2 separate regions of the Homo sapiens genome follow, and region 2 is linked to region 1. Evidence: fine-mapped expression QTL. A gene starts in region 1. The other region holds a variant in brackets. All regions are shown on one strand. Distances are between the middles of the regions. Region 1 holds the start of CHCHD7 (coiled-coil-helix-coiled-coil-helix domain containing 7). Region 2 has its middle 83 kb from the start of XKR4-AS1.

The links. PIP is the estimated chance that this variant, and not a neighbour inherited with it, causes the effect.
Region 2: its variant is fine-mapped to the expression of CHCHD7 in whole blood (TOPMed, PIP above 0.99).

The regions. Positions count from the first base shown.
Region 1 is chr8:56,206,417-56,217,917 of GRCh38, reverse strand. CHCHD7 (coiled-coil-helix-coiled-coil-helix domain containing 7) reads right to left here and starts at 6,129. Exons shown (of 4, transcript NM_001011671.3): 1 at 6,081-6,129; 2 at 3,251-3,320; 3 at 1,387-1,485; 4 at 1-587. The coding sequence starts at 3,304. The coding sequence ends at 483. PLAG1 (PLAG1 zinc finger) reads left to right here and starts at 6,645. Exons shown (of 5, transcript NM_002655.3): 1 at 6,645-6,797. RefSeq lists enhancers at 3,881-4,380, 5,951-6,020 and silencers at 6,033-6,258, 6,101-6,660, 11,082-11,282.
Region 2 is chr8:55,598,478-55,609,978 of GRCh38, reverse strand. No RefSeq gene overlaps it. Among named protein-coding and RNA genes, the nearest start is that of XKR4-AS1, 83 kb to the right of the region's middle. The variant C/A (reference allele first, on the strand shown) is at 6,670.

The sequences.
Region 1 (11,501 bases):
ACCTTCAACTTACCTTTCCAGTCTTCTCCCACCACTGCTCCACCCACCTGAGATTCTAGGTGGAGCAATCTACAGGATACTCTCTGAATGTGGTTCCAGCTTCTCTTGCCTCACACTCTTGCTCATAACATTTCCTTTCCTTGGAAACATTGCCTTCATCTCAGCCCCATTCAGTCTTTACTTGTTCACATCATACTCTTCTTTCAAAACCCAGTGGAAAAGCTCAATTTCTCATGTAGCCTTACCTAACTCCATGCCTCCAGAAAGTCATGCAAACTCATGCCACAACACAGCCAACAGCAACATACCATCGGCATGGCACTGAGAGCAAGCAAAAAGGACACGGGGTGACTTCACTGTCTCCACTTGAAGAACTTAAGGTCTGTCTGGGTGAGGGGTGTACAGTCTTAAATATTACAGCAATCATTTATTAGAAATATTCATCTGCTTCTAAGTTATATAAACACTTTTAATGCAAACATTCAATAGGGCATATTTCCCACTGCTCTCAAGATTTCATCTCTTTCTGCTGCCGTAGGCATAAATGGCTTCACTCCGTTCTTTCTTCTCTGCATCACGATAGAATTCTGTGTACAGGCATTAAAATAAAAAAGAAGAAACCAAAATCAGTCATGTATTAAATGCTAATCATTTGCCAGTAATTTGCTATTGCTTCCTCAAAAAGGAAATTCTAAAAACCAAGTTTTTTTTAAAAAAAAAATCCCAAAACCTAATTATAGGACTCCAGATAAACGTATTTAAATTAGTAACAATTAAATAGAAGTACTCATTCCCACAGGAATACATTAACAGCAATTGGGATGAGAATATACAAAGTACAAAGTACAAAAGTATATACAGTCTGTCAAGAAGAGCTACTGAATAATCGTGAAATAAAACCAACAGTGCATTTAGCAAAGCGAAAGGAAATAGCTGGATCCCGTGGTTCAAGGAAACAGAAATTATATACCAATGTTTTCAGAAAAATGGACCATTTTAACTTCCACGGATGGCAGTGAGAGAGAAAAAGGCAGAAATTGAAGCCTAACATGATGTGTTATGACAAGGGAAGTTAAACATTCTGTTCATCTCCAGGAAAACTAAATTTATAACAAAGACATTGTTTTAGGGCTGCAGATACTTAAATGTCTAAGAAGACCCACCTATATTAAAACTGCATTCTTATAGCTTAGAGGACGACGAGGCAGCTAACAAGAGCTCTCAAGGATCTTTCACGGCTAAAGTAGCACACAGAGGATAAAGTTGAAAAGTTAAGTTTCCCTACAGCCATCAGTGGGAAAGGATTGTGGGTACTGACTAATTTTAGGCTTCAGTTTCAACCCTAGGAGATGGGTTTTAACACAAAGCTAACCAATCTAGGCTTACCCAGAATCTCCGGCAGTTTTTGTACCTCAAGAAGTAAGTGGAACACCTTTCCCTGTCATAGTTATTTTCATCCAGACATCTGGTGGAAGCATCAGATTCCTTACAGATATAAGAGAGGCATCATTTAAAAGGTAGAACAGGATCTAAAAGCAAACAAACAAACAAACAAAAGCTGCTTCCCCAGAAGCAAATAATGTGAAATAGTTCATTTGTGTTCATTTTGATGGGTAGACTAATAAAAACTGGACAATCTCGCCAGCTATCCCAGTATGCACTCTGCTCAGGCTAACATCTTCCTTTTTATAATGTGGGCCAGTTTTCTGAATATGTGATCACAGGAATTTGAGCCAAATAACTGTGATCAATTAATCCAGTAACCATTTTAGTAAGAAACTGAGGCAAGGTGCAATGTGTTAAATGACTACTGCACAACTAGAATCAGAATCCATCTCCTGACTCACAGTACATCTCTCCTGTTTTTCCAGATTTTCACTTTGGCTTCAATGTTTGATCATAATATTGGTTTCAAGATTCCAAGTAAATCACTAATAACTGGTCTACAACAAGACAACCTAAATTAACACCATTCATCTCAATGCATTTTTGGCTACCATTTACTCCATTATACAAATACACTATTATATAAGCAATTTTAATAGATATTACTTCAAAACCGAAGTCAACAACACAAGCTATAAATTCAAAGGAAAGTAGGTGCCACATGGGGATTAAATTTAAGCTGTGTGAACTGGAAGTAGATTGAATAACAAACTTAAAAGTGAAAGGTATGATTCTGTGAGGTCACCTAAAGCAGGGGTCCCCAACCCCCAGGCCACAAAGTGGTACTGGTCTTCGGTCTGTTAGGAACCCGGCCAGATAGCAGGAGATGAGCAATGGGCAAGTGAGCCTTACCGCCTGAGCTCCCCTTCCTGTCACATCAGTGGCAGCATTAGATTCTCATCTAATGCTATTAGATCCCTATTGTGGGATCTAATATCACGAACCCTATTGTGAACTGCGTGCATGTGAGGGATCTAGGCTGCAAGCTCCTTAGGAGAATCTAATGCCTTTTGACGCCCGCCCCCTTCCCCATCCGTGGAAAAATTGTCTTCCACAAAACCGGTCCTTGGTGCCCAAAAGGTTGGGGAACACAGATCTAAAGGAAAGCTTTAGCTATATGGGTAGACAGTTTGCAACACATATCTAAGAAACATGTTCTACGTAAACAGAACAAAGCTGAATTTCTGTGCCAAATATTTAATGAATGTATATATTTGGAAAATGCATATAACTAAAGAGTATAATTTTCATGGGACCAGTATGATAACTACATTATTCAAACGTAGCAAAGCCACAAGTAAGTATCGCAAATCATACCAAATAAATGCCAATAAAAGCTTACTCTTAAAACATTTTGTTTATCAGATACCTTTGTGAAAACCTTTAAGCTTTAAATAGGCTAATTATATTATCAGCCCATTACTCTCAGCCAGGTTGTCAAGGACATGGTGATATTATTGCTAGTGAAACAATAAATGTCAGTGACAGTTTAAAAATATCATACCTTCCAGTTTTCCATGTTTGGACTAAATATTCTCAGTGTTACATTTTCCTGTCTAGTTTTACAGTGACAACCAAATGCTTGCATATTATACAAATAAGGAAAACTAAAGAAAAGATGAATGTTTGTTAGAGAAATTATAAACATCTAAAAATGCTCTAGTTAAATAGGATATGCTGGCCAACAATATTTTTTCTAGAGAAATAACTTTATTCAACAACTGCAGAAAACAAAGGCCCACAAAACTAGAGCAGCCTGTTTTTCCAACTTAACACTCATGAAAATTAAAGCAAACCATCCTACCGACAAACAAGGATTTATGTCAGGATCTCTCAGCCTCTGTGTTACCGAGGGCATTCTAACAGTCTTCTTACTGAGGGTAGACAGAAAAAAAATAATTATACAGTAGTTGACAGAAAATAAATCAATACATCTCAATAGCACTAAAAGTACCTGAAATTTTGATTTTGGCATAATGATCACTTAGTGAGGAACTTCATGTATTCTCTGTACTTTGTGAATAAAAACTTGAACGTGTTTTTCCTTTGTATTGCCATGCCTCAACACAAAGGCCATATATTGGATTGAAATGCATCTACTGGCTGGGTGCGGTGTCTCACGCCTGTAATCCCAGCACTTTGGGAGGCTGGAGCGAGAGGGCTGCTTAAGCTCAGCAGTTCGAGATCAACCTAGGCGACACAGAGAAACCCCATTTCTACCAAAAATACAAAAATTAGCCTGGTGTCGTGCCGTGTGCCTGTGGTCCCAGCTACTTGGAAGGCTAAGTAAGGTGGGATAGCCCAGGAAGTCAAGGCTGCAGAGAGCTGTGATTGCACCAGTGCACTCCAGCCTGGGTGACAGAGAGAGACCCTGTCTCAAAAAAACGAAAAAGAAAGATAGTTCAATTATAATTCAGTTGTTGTTTACTCTTATTCTTAAGTTTAAGCAACCAAATGTACTAATAAAACCTAAGAATACAGTATGCATTCCAACAATTACTTCCTTATTTTACACCAATTAGCGTACAAAATAAGAATGAAATTCGGTACAGTCCAACTTTAGCAAAAACATTCATCAACTGAAGTACCAGAGTGCCTATTTTATGGCCAATAGTAGGGTAGCCAACACACCAAAAAGCCAAGTTATTGCTTAGTTGACATTATGAAAAGCTATACTGTTTCAAAAACAAAAGAGTTGAAATTTTACTTCCAGTGGCATCTTCTTTTTAACTATTTCCCTGCGTTGCAGGAAGTCAGGGAATGCTACTGTGCTTCAGTAATCTTCCAATTCAATTCCTAGAGATACAGCTTTGCAAAAGTTTAGGAGGCCGAGTCGGGCGGATCACGAGGTCAGGAGTTCAAGACCAGCCTGGCCAACATGGTGAAACCCCCTGTCTACTAAAAATACAAAAATTAGCTGAGCGTGGTGGCACGCGCCTGTAATCCCAACTACTCAGGAGGCTGAGGCAAGAGAATCGCCTGAACTTGGGAAGCAGAGGTTGCAGTGAGCCGAGATCGCGCCACTGCACTCCAGCCCAAGCGACAGCAGTGGAAGACGCCGTCTCAAAAAAAAAAAAAAGAGACACCCAGCCCAGTTCTACTATGGGAAAGATCAGGACGTCCAGGCCAAAGGAGACCAGCCTTTGCAAAAAAAAGAATGGAAAAGGGTTTGGTTATTCTGGTGTCCATTAAGTAATCACTGAATAATAATTTTATGATTTTCATTGAACAATACAAGAAAATAACCAGCCAACAGTAACATCTTGGCAAAAAAGAAATCAAGATGCTGTTCAATTATATCTACAAGCTTCTTCCTCTCCTGAAGACAATTTTTTTCCACACTTCCCTTCTTCCTAAGAGAGATGATGATAGTAAATAAATTCACAGCTTTCTTTTTTACACCTATCCTATGATGTGAGAACACAGAACTCTTCATACACCTTAGATTTAATAATCTCAACAAGGATCAGACAACCTTGCATTAAATTTAAGTTTCGTGCCTTACATGAAAGTATCCTACTCTATATTTTATTGTCAGTCAGAAATTCTTCAAAAATAATACCTAGGTAACATCACATATACCCAGTTCGAGTTTGGTGCATGAGTTTCTTCACATTTCATTTCCTTTTCCTTCCGGATTCTAAATACAAGGCACTCTAAGTTTGGATTTCCGAAAGTCCCCTCCTTTGCATGAGTTCCTCGTGTATTAACTGGAATTGAAGAGGAAATGTCAATTTACAGTGAGGAGCGGGGCTGAATTACAACATCGAGTGCTCCGCTAAAGGGGCCTTGTCTATTACTTTTTGAATGTACTAAATAAATGTTACAAGGCTCTACTACTTGCAGAGCATAACCAGAAAGAAAAACCAAGCAAAGATATGAAGGAGGGGCCACAAAACCATAGCACATTCAGGGGATAACTCTAAAATCCACTCCAAAGGGCAAACTGCTTAATAAAGCAGTTCCTGATTTCCCATCCAGTGGTTCACGTCCCCCCTCTCTAAGTAGCTTTGAAAGGGCAGGGGGAAGGAAACGTTTCTGAACACGTTCATGCCCACACGCCCCGTGGTCGGAGCCCAGGCAGGGTCCGCGGCTCTGCTAAACCCGGAAGCTGCACACGCCGTGCCGTTAACCCACTGCCAGGTGCAAAGTGGAAGGGGGCAAGAAGTCAAGGGTGGCCTGCCGGAGGTGGGCGCGCAGGGCAAGGAGAAACGAAGGGCGAACCCGAGGCCTCGCCGCCTTCCGCGGTGTAGCCCGTCAGCATCTGATCCTGGACGGCGCGCACAGGTGAACACACCTTGCTGTGCCGAGACCATGCCGAGAGAGACAAGGGGCGAGGAAAACGCAGGGAACTGGGGGTGGGGCCGGTAACTGCGCTTCAGAGGCTACACAGGAGAGTGGAAGAAGAGCTGGGGTTGCCCGGACTAGGCAGAGGTCATCTTCCTCGCCCCCGGAGCGAACAGACCCGTGTGGCGGGAGGAAGAGCAACGGGAAGAGGTCCGCGCTGCGGCGAAGCCTGGCGGGAGCGCCTCCGCGCCGCAGAAGTGCATTCGGGCCCCGCTACGGCCCAAGGGCACCCCTCTCTCCCCGCTTTTCTGCGGCCGCTTCGGAGGTAGGGCGGGGGAACCACTCACCTCCGGCCTCCGCTTCGCCAGCACCCAGGCCGTCTCCAGCTCCAAACACGTCAATGGCTCACGCAGCAGGACCTTAAGTAGCGCGCATCCCAACTTGCTGCCCCCGCTCCCCGGCGGCAGCCCGCCCAATCGGCGCGCGCCGCCGCCAGACTGACAGCCGCGCGGGGCCCTGGGCCGCAGGGGCGGTCGGGCCTCGCCCCGCCCCCGCCTGGCGAAAGGAGGGCCGAGGCGGGAGGAGTGGGCGGGGCGGTGAGCGCGACCCCGCCCCCTCTTCCCCCGCCCCACCGCGCCCCCCAGCCGCGGCCCGTCTCTTAACACTTCGGCTTGACGGGCGGCGTCGCGGCCCAATGGGCGGGCCAACTCCCGCCAGCGGCGGCTCCGAGTGGCCAGCTCTCGGGCGGAGCGCGCGCGGGGGGCGGGCGCAGCGGCGGGCGGGGTTTGGGGGCGGGCCGACGGGAGGCGGGGGCGGTGGCCGAACAGGCAGGGGGAGGCAGCGGTGGGCGCGACGTCGGCGGCGGCGGCGGCGGCGGCGGCGGCAGCTGCAAGTTGGGCTGCAGGGGCAGCGCATACACTACAATGGCTGCTGGAAAGAGGCGTAAGGAAACAATTTCCAGGCCCGCCGCGTCCAGCCCGAAATATGAGAAAAAAATTATTAGAAATTCCGCGGGCGGTGTAGAGGCGGCGGACGGGCCGGAGGGAGGATGTTAAAGCCCCGCGGTGAGTTCTCCGGGGGTCCGGGGCGGCGGCGAGGCGTTTAGCGGGAGAAATATCAGGGTTATTTAAATTATGGGACTAGCCGAGGGGGCAGAGGAGCAGCGGCGGCGGCAGGAGGAGGAAAAGTTTGTGCTACTCTCAGCCCCTGCTCAGGACCCCAGAGAGAAAAATAATAATAAAAAATAAAATAAAATAATTACGCGGGGCTGCGAGGACTCCCGAAGTCGCTTCTGACAGGGCAGGGGGCGATGCGGCTGGGGACCCGAAGGTGAGGTCGGTGGGAAAAAAAAAAAAACCTTTATTCAGGGTCTGGAAAGTTTGAAAAGTTTTCCTCCTCCTCCTCCTCCTCCTCCTCTCTGGTGCTGTGAATATTGTGACAGCGGCAGCGGCAGCAGCGAGAGCGGAAGACATTAGAGACCCGAAAAATAAGGGAAAAATTAATATAAATTCAGTTTTGAGAGTAAACTCTCCGCATTTTCCACCAAAACATCCCGGGGGAAGGTCGCTTCCCAAAGGGCCTGGCGGAAACCCGCAGTCGGCAATATTTGGGGGGCACTTTGAGTGACTTGGGGTAACTTTGCCCCTTTTTCAAAAGAGGTTTTTCTTTTCTGGAGAAATGAATTTGTTTTTGCCCTTTCCTCAGGTGGGCAAGCCGGGGTCGGGGTGCGGGGTCTGCAGGGAGGTGTGAGCCCGGGGTGTGTGGCTGCGAGGGGGGGTAGGGGGAGGGGGTGCTAAATGAAAGCAGGAGATCGGCACAGAGCAGGGACAGCTTGTTGTCAGTATCATAAACAACCAAAATGGAGGGAGAACTCAGGCATATAACCAAATAAAAATTTTTAAAAAATCGCAAAAAATCCCTAAAAATCCGGGATGCTCCCCCTTTTCTCGCTAAAGGTAAAAGTATGTACCGCCTTTCCCCTGAAGTCCATTTTGACTTTGCAGGGACCAAGGAGTTAATATTTATTTATTTTTTAAAACTTTCGAAGGGCAAAAGCCTTTTATAACTCAACCGACAATGAGAAAACGTGAAAATCCGATGCAAGAGAAGCAGGGGGAGCGAGGGGGGAGGTGGTAGTGCAGAAACTGCTAAACTTATTGGTAATGTGGACTGATCTCAGATAAGATAAACACTATATTTGCTATTTTATAACTCTCTTTTAATGATCTTTGCGGGGTTTTTTTGGGTGGAAAAAAAAGTGATGCCATTTTCTTAATAGAGTTAATATGTGTGATTGGAAGAATGAACCTTTCCGGCTTTAGATTGCATTTTCGTCGCATTTATGCTTCAGGTTTTGTTAGTGGCTCCCTCCTTTCTTTAAACTGGGCTCTGCAGAGGAGGGATAGAGAGGTGATGGTGCTCAGAGAGGCTGGAGTGCAAGGCTGGAGTACCTTTTGGGGAGGGATGTGGAGTTGCTTGGTTTCCCCCTTCCTGACATGTTTGCTTCACCTGTTCATCCTTCCTAAAGAATGTTAAGCTGAGGTTTTCTGGTTTTATGTGTATAAAAGGATGATGTCTCTTGCATCACATTGATGTTAATGGGAAAGTGCTGCTGATGTTGGTTCCACGTGGGATATGGGACAGAGCAGGGCATTTTAAAGGGACAGCTTCTCTTTTCTTATGGTTTTCATCACCTACACAGAATCACTGTCTGAGGACCAAAAGCAGAGGTGCTGGGAGGGTGTGGTGATGGAAGAGCCTTCCCTTTCTGTTACTCCAGTGCACCCACCCATAGGAGTGATGGAGGGACAGGAGGGATAAACAGCCTCAACCGAAGATGGATATGTGTATAGTTTGTATCCAAACTGTTCCTTTGTGTAACAAGCCCTCCCAGGAACTTTTCATGTTACATTGCTTTGCTTTGGAAGCTGATTTTGGAAGGAATTGTGGAAAAATGGAAATAGTTTAAGGTGTGTGGTGTAATGGTATAGCATTATTGAACAGTTATGAATTCTGTGCAGTGAGATCAAAGAGCTGTGTATGCCCATAATGTGATTTTACAGCCATTTTGTAAAAACTGTAAAATACCTTAATATTCAATTTGGCTTAAGGTACATTGAGGACTTCTGGTTGAAAATTACAGAGTGGTGAAGATTCTTTAAAATTGTAAGCAGTAGGCATTTCTTTAGGGGGAAGGAAAGCACACACACCAACACCATGGAAAAGTTTACACATCCATTTTTAAAGTCCATCCTATGCATGGGTTGTAACTTTGCGCCTTTGAAATGAAAAGATTTTTAAAATCCTGAGCCCTGTGAGTTTTCATTTTCTAAGTTGAATTTATTTGTGTTATTTAACAGAAAGTGTTTACTGACCATAAACTACTATCGGCTCTTATGTTTTAGATTTCCACGATATTTTCAAAATTTAAAATGTGTAAATTGTTAGCTGTACTATAATGGGGATTAAGGTTAATCTTCAGTAGAAATTACTTGTGTTCCATTTTCCACAGGTATATGGAGTTTCTGAAATAAATCCTTATTTCCTCTTGTTTTTATTATTTATAGACATGGATTAAAATTAGAGCTGAATTTTTAGACTTCTTATATAGAATGTTTTTTCTTGCCCTACTGTATAAACAAGTTATTATTTTTGTAGTCTATTGTATGTTAACTTGTGTTTACAACTGAGTTCTTCCAACTTTCTGTAAATACCTCTATACAACATCACATCAGTAACGTGTTTGAGTACATCATCTTGTGGTTTCTGATTTTGGAAGCAATTACAACTTTCTAAGAACTCATTAAAAGATTAATCTCATCACCCACAGTTAAATCAAAATTGATTGGAAAAGGATTAAGCTATCAATAGAGAAGGGAAACTCCTCCATGCCCAATGATCTTCTGTCCAGAGGTTTCAGAATGCCATTAAGACTTACAAAGCCTTTTCATTTTATCTTACGTTTTCATTGTATTTTGGCTCAAGACAGTTACATTGACTATAAGTAGTCAGAATTATGCTGTGCATTTAAAATAAATGAGACTTAGATCTTGAATAATTGCCACTTTGACAAACCAGATACTAATATCAATAAATTCAATCTCTATAAAAAAATGAAGGAATTCAAGTTATATTAGATTATCGTGTTATTCAGGTTGTTTGGACACTATGACTGGTTTATTGTCAATCTAAATAAAAGTGCTGGTATTGTGATTTTTTTTCTTCCTCTCATATAGGGTGGTGTAAAACTTTCTTCATGTTTGTATTTTATGCAACTAGCTACTTGTCTGTTCAGAAAACGCACTCAGAGTGCACCAATCTAAAATCTGTAATCGCTTAGAGAGTCTTATTTAGATGGGGCACAGCACAATATTTAATTTGAAGTGATTGTACTGAGCTTTTGTGATGCCTTAGAAATACTACCTGTTGAACATCCTTTTCTGAAGCTATTAAATTATACCAGTATACAGAAATAATGTCATGATATTGTGTAGTCAAAATCTTTATTTCAGTTGGAATCGGAGAAACCTCATATATTGATAGTCTTATTTGAAATTTATATGCCTACTTTTGCTACTTGAAATTCTATAAAGAATTTATCTGCTGTGGAAGATTTATAAGTGTGGGCTAATATTGACACATTCTATATCTGTATATTATTACCAAAATATTTTAGTAAATAGTAAATAGATATTTATAGCAAAATAAATTAGTGAATTTGCTTTATCAGTATAGTTTTAAAATTTGAAGGGTGCTGTTTGTGTTTTAATAACATGCACAGGTGGGGGTTATTCCTTCATTTTTAATGTAATCCTGATTGTCACTATGTACATTTTGGTTTGATATTCTGCAAATTTTCCTTTCTAAGGATTAAATTTGTTGTTTCCTAAATTAAATGTGATGCTCCTGTCTTAAGTGAGATTTGGAAAGCCAGATAACTAAAACATATATCTATAGCTATCTTTGAAGTTTTGTTTCAGTAATCATTTGCCTCTTGAGCTGTGTAGTCAAAATAATTTTATCTAAGAATGTTTTAATATTTTTTCTTTAGAATCCTGTTCTTTGGAAAATTAAGATATATAAAAAATTACCAGTTACACACATCCCCAAGGAAAAAAAAGTTTTACTGAAGAAACTTACTTACATTGCTTGGAATACATATTCTTTTTGGTGTGTTTGCAAGTGTATAAGAAATAAATATTAATTTTTTCTCTTTATATTGATAACATCTTAGATTCTTTAATTATTTGAGTAAGGGAAGAGTTTCAAAAGGAGGAAACTGAATCTGTTCAACAAAATCCAAGGTAGTGAATATGATCAAGGTAAAAGGGCTATAAATCATCCCTTGAGCCATTTTTAAATGTCTTAAGAACCTGATAAACACCTTTTCTGAAACATTGAATACTTTGAAACTATATCAGTCACTTCTGAAAAACAAAGGTAGACCTTTAGTTTCTTTAGTTCTACCAGGAATTAATATAGGTAGCATATTTAACCAATTAGTAAGTGTTTAGGTAGTCATGGAAAAGTATTTACAAGTAAGTAAAATATGAATGCAGGGTAAATCAGATTGATTAGCTGTAAAGTTAACCTGATTTTAGAATTCATGCATGGGAATTCTTTTCTATTTTACCGTAAGACTACTTTGGAGGTAACTAATTTTTGCTTTTTGTATTTTATTGCCTAAATTTTTTGAAATGCTCAAACCTAAAATCCACTGTTACTACTTTTCATTTATGTTAGATTAACTTTTATATCTTATTTGCAAA
Region 2 (11,501 bases), 610 kb after region 1:
TTTCAGTTCACTTAATCACTTTGAAGCCGAGGAATCAGCTGAATATATCATAATGCTTCCCCCTTCCCACACCACACCACATTTTATATGTAAGCGAACATTCAAAAAAGCCAACTTAAAAGCAGAGTGTCCAGAATGTTGATTCACAGAGATGCAGACAGCCTTTGGCTGAGCATACATTCCTCTCATTTATCTAAATGGGAGCCAGGTGCTTGCACCAAAGAGGAGACTGACAAAAGGAAGCTTTTTGGGAGCTCTTATTTTCAAGTGTAAGGCAACACTTGTATCTTCTTAAAGGAAGGCCCCTTTAACTGTATTTCACTCCCTTCAGCAATGTGTGTATTAATAGATAAGTGTTTGCTCCAGGGTTTCAAAAGTTGTCCTTCTAACAGAATTAAAGTTTAACCTTCATTAGTCCCAGTGGTATTATCTCTAAAATAACTTCAGTTGTAGTTCTTTAATGCCATGTTCATTTTATTTTATCATGGTTCTTAAATTATAATAATCGTCTCATCCCTTAGATTCAGTATAATTTTGTATTTATATTGTACTTAGCAGACTCAGGTTATCATTAAATGTTCTACAAAAATAAAAACATGGGTTCAGTAGCTGTAACCAACCAGTAGAGATGAAATGTGTATGAAGAAAGGGCCTCACTTCCTCTTCAAAACACCAGTTTGAACAATGTCTTGCATTGCTCCTTTTGGCTAACATTTATGTCATCTTTATTTCGGAGCATAAAGAGCAGTGAGTGATGGAGTTACATTTTGGTTTAGAAATCCATTTATGTGAAATGAACTCAGTTTGCTGTGCCAGCTTCACCATGCTGGACAGGGCCCTAAATCTTCTCCTCCCAAGCCCTGGACTGTTTCCTTGAACTGATACTCTGTTATAGTTTGGATTTGTGTCCTTGCCCAAATTTCATGTTGAATTATAATCCCCAGTGTTGGAGGAGTGGCCTGGTGGGAGGCGATTGCATCATGGGGGCTGTGTCTAATGGTTTAGCACCATTGCCCTAGTGCTCTCTTATGATAAAGTTTTGCCAAGATCTGGTTGTTTAAAAAGTATGTAGCACCCCTCCCCATTCCTCCTGCCAGCTATGTAAGACATGCCTGCTTCCCCTTCACCTTCCACCATGATTGCAAGTTTCCTGTGGCCTCCCTGCCATGTTTCCTATACAGCCTGCAGAACCATGGGCCAGTTAAACCTCTTTTCTTTGTAAATTGACCAGTCTCAGGTAGTTCTTCTTAAAAATTTTTATTTAAATTATTTTTTTAAAAGATGGGATTTTACCATGTTGGCCAGGCTGGTCTCAAACTCCTGGCCTCAAGCAATCCACCTACCTGGGCCTCCCAAAGTGTTGGGATTACAGGTGTGAGCCACCATGCCAGCCTCAGGTAGTTCTTTATAGCATTGTGAGAACACACTAATACATGCTCATTTGTCAAGTACTGATTCAGTCTCTACCATGTGCCAGGCACTTTACAAGATACTGGCTTTTAGCAGTGAAGGAGACTGATAATATGCCTGACCCCATGGAATTTACAATCTAATGGGAGACACACAGCAAAAGCAACTTAGCCCCCTCAATCAAGATCATTATACAATAATGATGTGGTTGACACAAGGTGCTGGGAAGGAATAATTTCTGGATACAGGGAGAGTGCTGGTAGTCAGGGAAGGCTATTTTTGTAACCTAACTCGTATGGTGATGGTAAGGGAAGGCTCCTTTGAGGAGGTACTGAGATGAGAGAGTTCCTTGATCCCCTCAGGGGTCTTGTGACAGGGGTATGGACCCTTTGATCAAACCTCTTATGGAAGGGGGAGCATGCACACAGGCAGCTGCAGGAGCCACATTGAGTGCTTTTGGGTTCCAGCCTGACGGTAGCATCTAGGGGTGTGTTACAATTAATGCTCTTTCAGCAGTTGCCATCTGTGTACAGCTAAGTGTTAACAAGCTCAGTGGAGAGTCAGGGTGACATCTTTTTATACCCTGCCCTCTTGGTACCCAGGTCCTTTTATGGAGTCCAGGAAGAATCAGGTCAAACCAACTTGAAGGATGGTGAATGCAGGAATTTTATTGAGTTATGGAGGTGGCTTTCAGCTGGATGGGTGGGGAGCTGGAAAGCGGATGGAGTGGGAAGATGATTTTTCCCTGGAGTTTGGCTGTCTTGTGGCCAAACTCCTCTCTGACCTTCCCCAGCCAAACTCCTCTCAATGTTCAGATGCTCCTTCCCTTCTCTCCTTCTCTGCCACTCTGCCACTCTGCCACTCTTCTGCTTGTGGAGCCTTGGGTTTGAGGTTTGTATGGGTACAGCATAAGGGGTGTGGTGGGCCAAAAGGGAATATTTGGGCATGAAAACAGGAATGTCTGTTCTCATTTAGGGCCATGGGTTTCCAGGCTTGAGGGTAGGGCCTTTGCCAGGGAACCCTCCTCTTCTACCCTGTATTTCGCTGCCTCCTGTTCATATCAGTACCATTTAAGGTGAATCCCAGGGTATGAAGGCACCAGCCTTGATGAGACCCAAGAGAAGGGCACCACAGGAAATGGGAACAGTAAGTGCAAATGTCCTGACAATGGAATGATACCAACCTCTGTCCCTCAACCCTCACCTCAACTTCAGCTCCCACCAGTGCCTCCAATACATTTTTTCCCATTTATCTTTCACGTATGTAAATTGATTTAAGATTCCCTCTGGTAGAGCCCCTGAAGTACCCCCAAAGCCAATCTTATGTAACACCGAGAAGGCAGGGGTTTTAACAAATTGCATAAACTAGTATCTAAAACTAAAAATATGCAGCTTTTCTAGAAGATAGCGCCATGGGGGCAGAGTCTGTGTTTTATCAGGGGGCCCCACGAAACTGATAACTTTCTAAGGCATGTCCTGTTTTACATCCTGTGAATCTATTTACAGACCAATGTGAGGAGTTACTATTTTGTCTGTTTTGTCCCCTCTAAGCAGGCCTCTGAAATGTCCCTAAGTTCCTGGATTCTTTTAATGCTGGAGGGAAACTGACCAAAAGGCAGCCCCAGCATTGATTGTTGTATTATTAGCCTGTGGCCTGCAGGGTTTCCCCACTACAGTAGGGACATCATCATGCCTACATTCTTCCTATTCCAGGAAGACATTTCCATTGAAAAGAGGTAAAATGGTAAAAAGGGGTGACAATGCATGTAAATAATCTCACCATCTGCCTAGAGTAGGAAATTGAGGAACACAAAGGCAAGGTGACTTTGCCTGATGAGAGTGGGGCTGGGGTAGGCTGGTGACCAATTCTGAGCCCAAATGACTTTTTATGAAATGTTCCCTGAGCACACCTGATTCCCAACCCCAAGGGTACTGTGAATTTGCACAACTTCTGTGCACCCCAAGTACTCTGTCCTTGCCCGTCCCAGTGAATTGGAGAGTATCTCACCGTAAACCTATATCCTCATTTGCATGGTGAACTTCTCTGTGTTTTGCTCTCTATGTTCAGAGTGCGTGCTCAGAAGGTGTTTGTCACAAATAAGTAGATGATATATAATCAATACAGCTCCATCAAAGCAATATTGAAAATGTTGACTGTAAACCAGCAGTGGTACCAGAGTCCTGATGGACTATGATAACTGGAGAAGGAGGAGGAGAGAGGAGACTTCCTCAGCACAAGCTCTACCCACAGTGAAATAAAGGCCACCACTCACTTAGCACTGCTAATCTTTCATCTACATAGACATTTTATTTTCCTTTGGGAGATAATGGGCAGAAAGTGGAAGAACTGAGATGTTTTGATGAAATTATTTCCTTACTTAATGGGAAAGTCTGAATGCTTTTTGTTGCTGTAACATCTATCCAAAAATGTGTGTTTCAACCTCTCTGCCTCAGCAACTCAGCAACTTTAATATTTTGAACAAAATGAAATCTTTCTTTGGAGGTTGAAAGTATTGTTATGCCTTGAGAACATCATAACATCCAGACCCCTGCCCTGGTTTCTTTTGGACAACGCATAGGAAATACAGTTGAGTCTGCCCTGACTCCAGGGCATGACACGCACATTCTTTGAGTAAATCTTAAAATAATTGAGTTTCCCTATGACCCATGCTTTTCCCCTGAAGTCATAAGCTATAAAAAGTTCTGATAGGTTTATGTTTCTGGTTAATCAAGGTTTACTGTCTGCTTTAAACTTAGTGCCAGGTGACACCTAGTAATCATTCTTTGTTTGGAGCATCACAGGCAACAGAGAAGTCAAGTTCATCACCAAGAGGCAGCTGTACTCACATCCTGGAAGAGATTCAATTAATAAACCTCTCATCTTTCTTCATTTTATTACCCCCAGTAGGGAATCTTTTAGCCTGATGCTATTAGTAGACAGGGCATGACCTTCCACTCTACTGTAATATTTTATCCTTTTCTATGTCCTCAGTTGGTGTGCTTAGTAAGAAGTTTCTCAAAAAATGGATATGGAGAGAGCAGGATAATTCCTGCCTTCCTAGAATATGTCCCAGTGATAAGTGGGCAATGAATGCTGATGAGTATTGATTACTTCCTTAATGAAGCCACATGTTCTGGAGTGTGTATATGTGTGTGCATGTTTTGCAGCTGCTGTCTAGACTATACTCTGTATTACTCAACCATCAGGATGATTACAAATAATGAAAGAAAAAAAATGAAATGACATCGGCTGCATTAATTTTACCCATCTACAGTACTAACAATGTAGTTAAGAAAACATCCCCGGGATGTATTTTGCCTTCATAATGTATCAGTGGCAATAGGTGCAAAGAGTTTCTGGAATTTCACTCAAGTCACAGATGTGAACATGTTTTTATAAATTGATAAAGAAATAATTATTTTGACTAGAGCATGGAGTAGAAGTGGGCTTCATTTGATAATGATTATTATTATTATTATTTTCTTGAGATGGAGTTTCGCTCTTGTTGCCCAGACTGGAGTGCTGTGGTGCGATTTCTGCTCACTGCAACCTCCACCTCTCAGGTTCAAGCGATTCTCCTGCCTCAGCCTCCTGTGTAGCTGGGATTACAGGCATGTGCCACCACACCTGGCTAATTTTTATTTATTTATGTTTTTTGAGGCGGACTCGCTCTGTCGTCCAGGCTGGAGTGCAGTGGTGCGATCTTGGCTCACTGCAACCTCTGACTCCCAGGTTCAAACGATTCTCCTGCTAATTTTTGTATTTTTAGTAGAGATGGGGTTTCACCATGTTGGCCAGGATGGCCTCGAACTCCTGACCTCAAGTGATCCACCCACCTTGGCCTCTCAAACTGTTGGGATTACAGACGTGAGCTACTGTACCAGGCCAGATACTGATTATTTTTGATGTCATCTATTTCTGAAGACAAAAGGACCTGGGTCAAACACCTACACACTGGGTACTTGATCAGGTAATTTGCCATCCTGAGCCTCAGAAACTTGCCTCAAAGGCTTGTTGGGAGGATAAAGCTGAGGAAGAAGCATGTCATAGGAGGAGAATGTTGGCTCTGAAGTCTGACAACCAGCTTTCACCCCTCATTGACTGGGTAACACTGGATAAACTGCCTGTCTTCTCTACGTCCCATTTTCCTCATGTATTAAAGGTAGATACCAATAGAGTCCTCATAGGATTTTTGTGAGGAATTAGGTGGAGATATTGCAAGTCAGATGACTGTAATATAGTAGGTGTTCTTAAGGTGTCAGGGATGTTCATACTCTCCTCATAAGCCTGAAGAACTTCTACTTTTCATATAAGATTCAGCTTAAATGATGCAAGCCTGATACCAAAATCTGACAAACACACTACAGCAAAGAAAATTACAGACCAATATTCTCCATGATTTTAGAGGTGGAAATCCTTGACAGAATTTTAACATGTGTACTCTAGCAATATATAAAATGATAATACATCATGAAGTGTGGAATGGAAAGGTGATTCAACACTGAAAAATACCAATCAACTCATCATATTAATAGAATAAAAAAGAAATGCTACAAGCTCATTTTAATAGATGCAGAAAAGGCACTTGATACAATTTAACACCCATTCATGAGAAATGTTCTCTGCCACGTCACAGCAGAAAATATATTTCTCAATTTGATATGGCTAACATCTTAGTGGTGATATATTGAACACTTTCCCCTTAAGACAGGAAGCAAGGTGAGGATGTGCACTCTACTCATTTCTATTTAAAACTAATGACTAGACAGTGAAATAAGGCAGGAAATAAAAAAGACATAGATTAGAAAGTAAAAAGTAATACCATCTTTACAGATAACATAATTATATACATAGAAAATCCTTAAAAAGATCTAACAAAAATTCAAAATAATTTCTAGAATTAATAAGTGAATTTTACAATGTCACAGGACACAAATCAATGTATAAAAACTAGCTGTATTTCTATGTACTGGCACCAAGTAATTGGAAAATGAAATAACAAACTACTTTTATAATAGCATCAAAACCCAGGAAACACTTAGGAATAAGTTAGCAAAAGATATACTGTCTTTTGGGAAATGACTCTGATGCTGTCCTAGACATCACAAAACAAGTGTTCACAGGCCAAATTAAAACATTAGGTTAAAACCCAAATCACATGCTTTGTTTAGTTAATTAATAACATAAACCAAAAAATCAAGGAGAAAGATCTGGGGTATTTTAATATACTTTGGTGAGGAGGCAAGTAAGTAGAAGAAC[C/A]ATATTGTCTGGATCCTGGGCCATGCTATGTTCACTTGTCCTGTCTCTCCTGTTGCTTAATCAGCCTTCCCCTCTGATATGATTAGAGGGACAAGAGCTGAAGTTTGAGCAAGAGGGGAAAAGACAGAAGGTGTCCTGGGCTAGTAACACATGCTTGCTCTGTTGGAGAGATGCAGGCACAAGAAAACCTGGCCACAGTTTTAACTTGCTATTAGTTTGCTGAACAGCCATGGGTTTTGTTTTTCTTGGGGCCAAAATGGATGTCATTAATGGGTGGTAAATCAAGACCTTTTGAATATTGAGTGTTCATGAATATTTAATGTATCCTGAATAGTTTGTGCTGTTTGTATATTTAGCACTGCATATGTCTCATACATATTTAATAATTCCTGAATATTTATCTGAGGTGTATCCTGAATACACCTCCATGACATTTGGTGTATCATGAATATTTAGTATCCTGGTGCCTCATGAATGTTAGGCATGTTTTGCACCTTCCATCCTTTTCTTCTTACATTGGGTACGCACATGCTTTACTTTGTAACTACTTATCTTGTATAATACCTCTTGTGAATTGTCTGTTCTAACAAAGATTTTGCTTATTATGCTATCTATACTTAAAACACTTTAAAAGTTTTTGCTAATGTTTAAAGTTTTTGCCAATGTTACCAACTACAAACATTTTCATCTTTCATAGTAGAATCAAATACTCCCAAAAGTCAATGTACATTACATGTGTAAGACCACTATACTGAAAATTATAAAACGTTGCTAGGAGAAATTTAAACAGACCTATGTACATGGAGAGGTATACCATGTTCATGTTTTGGAAAACTCAATATTGATAAGATGCAAAATTTCCCCAAATTGATCCATCAATTCAACATAATCCCGATTTTGAAAGTCCCAGAATGCTTTATTTTGTGGGGAAGGTAGAAATTCACAAACTGATTCTAACATCTGTTTGTAAGTGCACAATAATTTTGAAAAAGAATAACGAAGTAGAAGGATCTAAGCTACTTGATTTCAAGCCTTACTATTGGTGTTAGAATACACATACAGAGTGGATTCCACAAATAGATTCACATATATATGATCAACTGACTTTCAACAGTAGTGCCAAAGTAATAAATGTGGAAAAAGAATATTTTCAGCAATTAGAGCTGGTTTAACGAAATTTTTAAGAAATGCACTGCAACCCATGTCTCACACTATGTACAGAAATTAATTTGACATGTATCATTGCCCTAAATATAGAAGCTAAACAAAGAGAAAAAGATAGGCAAACATTTTCATCATTTTGGGATAGGCAAATATTTTTTAGACACAAAACACTCCAAGAATAAAAGAAAAAAATGTACAAATTGGACTTTATCGAAATTAAAAATTTCTGCTCTTCAAGGGACACCATTAAATCAATAAAAAGGCAAACCATAGATTGGGAGAAAATATTCACAATGCATATGTATAACAAAGGTCTCATGCCTAGAACTCAAAAATAAGATAATTATTTTTTTAAAAAATGACCAAAAACTTGAACAGATACATAAATGAAGACTACAAATGTTCAATAAGCAAACAAAAAGATAATCAAACATCACTAGTTATTAGATAAATGCAAATTAAAACCACAACAAGATACCACTTTACTAAAATTTTAAAAACCAGTGATACCAAGTGTTGGTAAGGATCTGGAGGATCTAGAACTCCTGTATTGCTGTGGGAGGAAAAAATTATGCAACGACTTTGGAAAACTATGCACCAATTTCTTATAAAATTAAGCATACCACTATCTGTGACCCAACAATTCTACTGTTAGGTACTTACCAGAGAAATTAAATGTCCACAAAAAGACATGTATTTGAATTTTCATAGCAGTTTTATTCGTAATAAATTCAAACTGAAAAGAACCTAAAAAAACCATTGACAGAAAAGGATGAGTTCATGTCCTTTGCAGGGACATAGATGAAGCTGGAAACCATCATTCTCAGCAAACTATCACAAGGACAGAAAACCAAACACTGCATGTTCTCACTCATAGGTGGGAATTGAACAATGAGAACACTTGGACACAGGGTGGGGAACATCACACACCGGTGCCTCTTGTGGGGTGGGGGGCTGGGGGAGGGATAGCATTATGAGAAATACCTAATGTAAATAACGAGTTGATGAGTGCAGCAAACCAACATGGCACATGTATACCTATGTAACAAACCTGCACGTTGTGCACATGTACCCTAGAACTTAAAAAATAATAATAAAAAACCATTGACAGAATAATGTCTAAACAATACAAAAATGAGAAACCATAAAGGGTACATATGATATGTGCCCTCAGAAGTCTCTGAATCCTCCTATGGGCTCTATGTATGCTCCTATTGGATGTGATGGCTGACAACTGCTTTGTTGACCCCGTCTCCACGTAGGCAGTGGAGAGCAGAGCTTTCTGTAGCAGGTAGCTGAAACAGAACTCAGGGAAGAGGAATAAACTTCCCTACTTTTCTCTTTTATACCCTCGGGAGGGGTTTCACACCTTCTTGAATATAACCGAGCAAATACACTATAACAACTGTAAAAATAAGTTGTTATGCAATGGAATATTATTCAACCATAAAAAGGAATGAAGTACTGATATACACTACAACATGGATGGATCCTGAAAATATGCTAAAGGAATGAAGCCAGATGCAAAAGGTCACATAGTGTATGACTACATTTACATAAAATATCCCAAACAGGCAAATCCAGAGACAGAAAATAAATTAGTGGTTGCCAGCAGCTTTGCAGGGAGGTGGGGTGGTGGGATAGGGGAGGGGATGGGAAGTGACTGTAAATGGGTATGGGTTTTCTTTTGGAGTGATGAAAATAGTCAGGAATTAGATTGTGGTGATGGTTATACAACATTGTGAATATAGAAAAAGTCACTGAATGGTAAACTTTAAAAGAGTGAATTTTGCTGAGCATGGTGGTTCACCCCTATAATCCCAGCACTTGGGAGGCAGAGGCAGGCAGATCACTTGAGGTCAGGAGTTTGAGACCAGCCTGGCCAACATGGTGAAATCCCGTCTCTACTGAAAAAATACAAAAATTAGCCAGGTGTGGTGGCACACGCCTGTAATCCTAGCTACTCAGGAGGCTGAGGCAGGAGAATTGCTTGAACCTGGGAGGCAGAGGTTGCAGTGAGCCAAGACCATGCCACTCGCCACTGTGCTCCAGCCTGGGTGACAGAGTGAGACCGTGTCTCAAAAAAAAAAGAGTAAATTTTATGCTATGTGAATTATATTTCAATAAAAATACCAGTTGATACTTTTCAGTCCTTATTTTCTCTCTGTTGCATTTTTCATTCTTAATGCCTTCTTTCTTGACTCACTTTCTTCTGCTTTTCTTTTTGATACATTCTTCTTCTGATTTTACCTCGACTTCTCAGATTCATCCTTTTAGATTTTCATTGGTTATTCTTATTTCCATATTCATTCCTCAAAGCAATATTGATGGTCCTCAGAGTGTTGTCATGGGTCTGCTCCACCTCCGGGCATCTGTCTGCCTGTTGTTTCCCTTATCTTCTGTATCATGGTTGATGGTATGTCCATATGTTCCACCCACAACTCTGTCCTCAACTCCATGCTCTTACACTCAACTTTCCATGCTTGGCTGTCCCACAAGCTCCCAATCTCAACATGCGCCAAACAATTTACCTTTGCCCCAAACCAAACTTGCTAGTACTCTTGTTTTCCTTATCTCAGAAAATTAGGGATCCTTCTTGACATATCCACTCCCCAGGATGGTCTCCCAGAGAGGGTGTTGGCTCCCAGCAGAACTTCATAAAAACTGGCCACAACCCCATGCTCATGGCTTTTGATTCTGTTAAGGTGTCCAGGTGGCAGGTTGGGATAAGAAGCCTCTGTGTCATCCAGTTGCAGCAGAAGTTTGGGCCTCACTTCCTGTTTATTTCAAGAGAGATTCTAGCAATCCAAAAATAATAATTAAGTGAAAAAGAATCTAGTGTAATCATGAATGATTTTGTTTCAGCAACAGGTAAACACTTAATTTTTAGCACATTGGAAATGAGAATAATAAATATAAAAATAAAACAAAAATGCCTAAATAGTGGAACTACTTAATTTAATTTCTCTTTTATTGCTTTATGGATGTTGTTCATGGATTTCCAAACAAATCCCGGAAAAAAAGGTAAGTTGTTTTGTTAGGGAAATAACATCTCATCCTGGTCCATTCATCATTTCAGAGTGACAAAGCAAAACCACATTTATCAAAAAAATTTACAAAGTTAGAGAAAACACAACTATAGAAATAAAACTACTAGTGTTCTTAACAATGGTATAAAGAAGCTGCAGAAACCCATCTAGGCAGGAAGAGAAATGAACAATCTGGTGGGATGCCTACAAAACACAAAAGACCTGCAAAGGAGGAGGCCTGAGACAGCTATGAGAATGATCAGAAGCAGGGGGAGAATGAGTTAGAGCTCAAAGAAATAAAAAATGAACACTGCCAAAACTGTCTCAATGAAGAGTTTTCAAATCACTAAACACAATATTGTTAAAAAATAGCATGGCTTCACTGCAGTGGTCTTCAAGGGCTTATTTCAGATGATAAAGAAAGACCGGAGCCATGAAATTGTTACTTTGCATTTGGTTTAGAAAAGGAACAGAGAGTTAAGATCTACTTCAGATCAAAACGTCAATGTCCAGGAGCTATGGAAACAGAACTAAATGGTGCTTGGAGATAAAAAAGCAATTGATGCCAAAGGAAATGCATTGTCCTGTTTCCATTTTCTTCTGACTATGGGTTTTAGAGTAAAGAATTGGTGAGTTAGT